Linked DNA regions of Homo sapiens: region 2 is linked to region 1. Evidence: fine-mapped expression QTL. A gene starts in region 1. The other region holds a variant in brackets. All regions are shown on one strand. Distances are between the middles of the regions.

Region 1 (2,500 bases):
TCAAAAGGTTGGAATTCAAAGACACATGCCTTAAAATAAGTATGTTTACTCAGCCCCCCACGAAATAAAACAACGAGAATTTCAGCAGAAATAGGAAACTATAAGGAAATCGTCAAATGGAAATTCTGAAATTGGAAAATGCAGTAATAAAATTGAGTACAACAGAGGATAAAGTTAAATTTAATTAGATATAGTTGTTTAAAAACAAAACAAATAAAAAATAACTGGAGAAGTGGAAGATAACTCAGAAAATCCCCAGAATGAAACAGATTGAAGCAAAAGGGAAGAATGGAAACTCCAGACAATGGTTTAGAGATATAAAGGGCAATGAGGAGGATGATTGAAGTCTTAGGGAAAGAAGAGGGAGCGCATGAGCAGAAGAAAGACTTGGTGAGAAATGTTAGAGCATCTCCCAATGCTGACGAAAGAGCACCAGGAAACAGATTTAAGTTGGCAGATTTTTATAACATTCAACATACATTCTTCACGGGATCCAGCAATCTGACTCCTCAGTATCTTCCCAAGAGAAATGACAGCAGTGTCCACACAAACACCTGTATGCAAATGCATATGGTGACATTATTCATAATCACATAAAACTGGAAATAAATTCAGTGTCTTTCAACTGATGACTGGCTTGTATTAGTGATCCATCACTGTGCAAAATATTACTCCCAAAACTTGGAGGCTTATATAAGAAATGGTTATTATTTCATAGTTTCTGTGGGCCAGGAAGCTGTGTGTGGCTTAGCAGGGTGCCTTTGGTTTAAGGTCCCCCATGAGACAGCAATCAAGCTGTCAGCCAAGACCACAGTCATCTTGAGACTTGAGTGAAGGCTGATCCATTTTCAAGGTCACTCACGTGGCTATTGGCAGGCCACAGAAGGTTCACATCCAAGTCAACTCACATGGGCAGCCTCCCAGCACAGCAGCTCTCCCCACATCCCTGAGCAAGCAATCCAAGAGAGAGCACCCCAGATGGAGGCTGCAGTCTTCACATAACCCAGTCTTGAAAATGACACCCCAGCACTCTGTCACGTTTGATTGAGTCACTAAATCCAGGCCACACTCAATGGGTGGGGAGTCCGTGAGTGCCTGGAGGTGGGCTCACCAGCATCTCACAGGCTGAACTAGCACATGGATGAAGCCTGCAATAAATAAGAGTGATCAACTATAATGAGCATCATAAAAAAAAGGGATGGCTAAAGCATTGTGTTGAGGTTAAAAAAAAAAAATCAAAAGACTAAGTGTGATCCTGCTTATGTAACATTTGGGGAAAAGCAAAGCTGGAGACAGAAAACAGCTGAGTGGTTGCTGGAGGCTGGGCGTAATGGCAGGAGATGAAGTTCAGAAGGACATGTGGTGTTATAGACAACCTGGAGTGCTCATGTCTGCAGATGCACAGATGTGTATGTCTAAAAAAGGTGAATCTCACTGTCTCTAAATTACACCATAATCAATCCAACGTTTGTAAAAATGAAACAGAAACCTTTGCAAAGCCTAAGTAGGATACATAAAACTTTCCTAGGTGTATCATAGTAAAACACCTATAAAATAAAGACCGAGAATTAATTTTAAAAGCAGTTAGAGGTAAAAATATGTACTATCTTCGAAAAGTAGCAACTGAAGTCCAAAGACAATGAAATAACATAGTTAACATGCTCAAATAAAATAACTGCCCCCCAAAAATTCCTGTAATAATGAAAGGGAGTTAAGGATATTTTTAGGAAAAAAAATAAAAATGAAAGGAATTAAACACTGACAGACTCAGAATGCTTAGAGATAAAGGAAAGAATAAAGAATAACTAAAAAGGCAGTAAAATTTGGAGGGGTAAAATAATATTTAATATTATACACTGATAAACCTACCTTGCCAGTTGTAACCTCAAAGGTAACCCCTGAAAGAATATTAGTGGGGTAGATAATATCCAAACTAGTAAAGAGAGAAAAATAAAATCATAAAAAGTCAACTCAAAAGATGCAAAAAGGGGATAAAATAGGAAAAATAGGGCAAGGAGAAAGTTCTGAGACAGTAGATATGAAAACACATGTGAAAATAAACTTTATTTAATTATAATAAACTTTAAAAGGCTTATTTAATGTAAACTTATATGAAAAATGATTAGCAGAATATTTTAAAAACTAAGTTTTCTGAAAACAGTAAAACATAAGGATTCTGAAAGAGTAAATGTAAAGGGATAGAAAAGAAAAAGATACAATGTGCAAATATTAAAAAGCAGCAAAAACAGTGCTCATATATTTGAACGTCAAAAATTACATCTCTAGGCCAGGCGCGGTGGCTCACGCCTGCAATCCCAGCACTTTGGGAGGCCGAGGCAGGCAGATCACCTGAGGTCAGGAGTTCGAGACCAGCCTGGCCAACATGGTGAAACCCCCATCTCTACTAAAAATACAAAAATCAGCTGGGCTTGGTGGTATATGCCTTTAATCCCGGCGACTCGGAAAGCTGAGGTAGGAGAATTGCTTGAACCCAGGAGGC
Region 2 (3,022 bases), 98 kb after region 1:
TGATATGATGTCTGGGATTTGCTTCAAAATATTTGGTGAGGGACAGGGTGCAAGATAGGATTATAGAGGACGCAAGACTTGAACTTTCACCCTATTTGGTTGTACTTTCTGAAGTTCTATGGACTAGATAGTCACACAGGGGTTAAGCTGTGTGTTGTGGCTCATGCCTGTAATCCCAGATAAAGGAACAGAAAGGCCTATATGGAAACATTTGAACACCTAGTCAGGCTAATAATTTAGTTCCTCAGAATAAATATATTTGTGAAATGTATATTAAGAGAAGCTAAGCACTGAACAGGGAAGAACAGAATGGAGGAATTAAAAGACCACCGAGTCAGTGCTTTGATCACCTTATTGTCCTAAACCCTTGATATCCCCACACTCATATGCCCACTCAGCTGAATAAAGCCCATGAAGTTACCAGAATATTTAACTATTATATATTATTTCCCAAGCGTTCCCCTTGAAGGAATCACTCCCAGAACCAACCAAGGGGCTTATCAAGATATAATTCCCAATCATGTACACTAAGTCATCTTTCAAAGATAACTTGTGGAGAATACAATTTCTTCATCTAATCCAGGGGGCTTTGGCATTTCTCACCAACTCCCCTCACTGGCAACTGCCTCCCTTCACATGGCTTCAGAGAATTTTCCTGCTAACAGAGATTGCTCAGGAAATAGCTATAAACACCTATTATCTCCCTTCCCAGAGCTTTCTTTAACAATAAGACCCTTCCCTTGGCCATCATTTCCATCATTATTTTGACTTCTCCCTTGTCCCTTAAGTCCAATTAGCTGATTGGAAACCTTCCCACATAATCTGCCATTCTTGCTTCCTTTCCATTCCCAATGCCACTGGATTTGGCTGGACCCCATAGTGAGCGAGGAAGTAAAAAGAGAATAGCTAGGCAGATAGCTAGGTCAAAATTCCTCAGTAGAACTTCCTTTCTCACAAAAAGCAGCCCAAGAAAACACGTGTCTCCTAACAAAGAGCAGCCTGGAAGATTGTGCTGCAAACATAGATAAGGAAGCTGGAAGCTTGCAGCTGGGAGCTGCCGCACTAGAAAGGGGTACCTGGGGCCAGTCATGTGCACCATGAGGGCTCCGCCTCCCACTTTTTTTTTTCTTTTTCTTTTTTTTGCACCTGCACAGTAGGAAAGCAACATGGAGTAGCTCAGGCAAAGGACCCGCCTCCATAATAAAAGGCTGGGATGGGGGCTGCCAGAGATTCGCACTCTATGCTGATGGTACACCTGGTCTTAACTGTTTTTTCACACCCTATGTAGGTAAAATACTGCCTCCCCACTAGGTCACTTATAAAAACTGTCAGGCCTCTGAGCCCAAGCCAAGCCATCGCATCCCCTGTGACTTGCACGTATACGCCCAGATGGCCTGAAGTAACTGAAGAATCACAAAAGAACTGAAAAGGCCCTGCCCCGCCTTAACTGATGACATTCCACCATGGTGATTTGTTCTTGCCCCACCTTAACTGAGTGATTAACCCTGTGAATTTCCTTCTCCTGGCTCAGCAGCTCCCCCACTGAGCACCTTGTGACCCCCGCCCCTGCCCACCAGAGAACAACCCCCTTTGACTGTAATTTTCCATTACCTTCCCAAATCCTATAAAACGGCCCCACCCCATCTCCCTTCGCTGACTCTCTTTTCGGACTCAGCC[C/T]GCCTGCCCCCAGGTGAAATAAACAGCCATGTTGCTCACACAAAGCCTGTTTGGTGTCTCTTCACATGGACTCGAGTGAACTTTGATGCCGTGGCTCGGATCGGGGGACCTCCCTTAGGAGATCAATCCCCCGTCCTCCTGCTCTTTGCTCCATGAGAAAGATCCACCTACGACCTTAGGTCCTCAGACCAACCAGCCCAAGAAACATCTCACCAATTTTAAATCCAGTAAGCCGCCTCTTTTTACTCTCTTCTCCAACCTCCCTCACTATCCCTCAACCTCTTTCTCCTTTCAATCTTGGCGCCACACTTCAATCTCTCCCTTCTCTTAGTTTCAATTCCTTTCATTTTCTGGTAGAGACAAAGGAGACACGTTTTATCTGTGGACCCAAAACTCCAGCGCTGGTCACGGACTGGGAAGGCAGCCTTCCCTTGCTGTTTAATCATTGCAGGGACACCTCTCTGATTATTCACCCACGTTTCAAGGGTGTCAGACCATGCAGGGATGCCTGCCTTGGTCCTTCACCCTTAGCGGCAAGTCCCGCTTTTCTGGGGAAGGGGAAAGTACCCCAACCCCTTCTCTCTGTGTCTCTACCCGTTCTCTGCTTTTCTGGGGAAGGGGCAAGTACCCCAACCCCTTCTCTCTGTGTCTCTACCCCTTCCCTGCTTTTCTGGGGAAGGGGCAAGTACCCCAACCCCTTCTCTTCTTGTCTCTACCCCTTCTCTGATTTTCTGGGGCAGGGGCAAGAACCCCTCAACCCCTTCTCCTTCACCCTTAGTGGCAAGTCCCACTTTTCTGGGGGAGGGGAAAGTACCCCTCAACCCCTTCTCCTTCACCCTTAGTGGCAAGTCCCGCTTTTCTAGGGGGCAAGAACCCCCAATCCCTTATTTCCACACCCCGACCTCTTATTTCTGTGACCCAATCCCTTATTTCCACACCCCAACCTCTTATCTCTGTGCCCCAATCCCTTATTTCCATGCCCCAACCCCCCTTCCCACTTTTCTAGGGGGCAAGAACCCCCAATCCCTTATTTCCACACCCTGACCTCTTATCTCTGTGCCCCAATCCCTTATTTCTGTGCCCCAACCCTTTCTCTGCTTTTCTGGAGGGCAAGAAACCCCCACCCCTTCTCCGTGTCTCTACTCTTTTCTCTGGGCTTGCCTCCTTCACTATGGGCAAGCTTCCACCTTCCATTCCTCCTTCTTCTCCCTTAGCCTGTATTCTTAAGAACTTAAAACCTCTTCAACTCTCACCTGACCTAAAATCTAAGTGTCTCATTTTCTTCTGCAATGCCTCTTGACCCCAATACAAACTCTACAGTAGTTCCAAATAGCCGGAAAACGGC

Direction of the effects. Positions count from the first base shown, and alleles are read on the strand shown. Sizes are in standard deviations (SD) of each study's normalised expression.
For the expression in tibial nerve of the gene that starts at base 1,147 in region 1, T is the high allele of the variant in region 2 and C is the other (moderate effect, 0.60 SD a copy in GTEx).

The links. PIP is the estimated chance that this variant, and not a neighbour inherited with it, causes the effect.
Region 2: its variant is fine-mapped to the expression of MYO16-AS1 in tibial nerve (GTEx, PIP above 0.99).

Annotation. Positions count from the first base shown.
Region 1 is chr13:109,166,157-109,168,656 of GRCh38, forward strand. MYO16-AS1 (MYO16 antisense RNA 1) reads right to left here and starts at 1,147. Exons shown (of 3, transcript NR_047700.1): 1 at 863-1,147; 2 at 480-554. The region is part of intron 33 of MYO16 (myosin XVI); the gene reads left to right.
Region 2 is chr13:109,263,764-109,266,785 of GRCh38, forward strand. LINC03061 (long intergenic non-protein coding RNA 3061) reads left to right here and starts at 1,724. Exons shown (of 2, transcript NR_185883.1): 1 at 1,724-1,904. The variant C/T (reference allele first, on the strand shown) is at 1,678.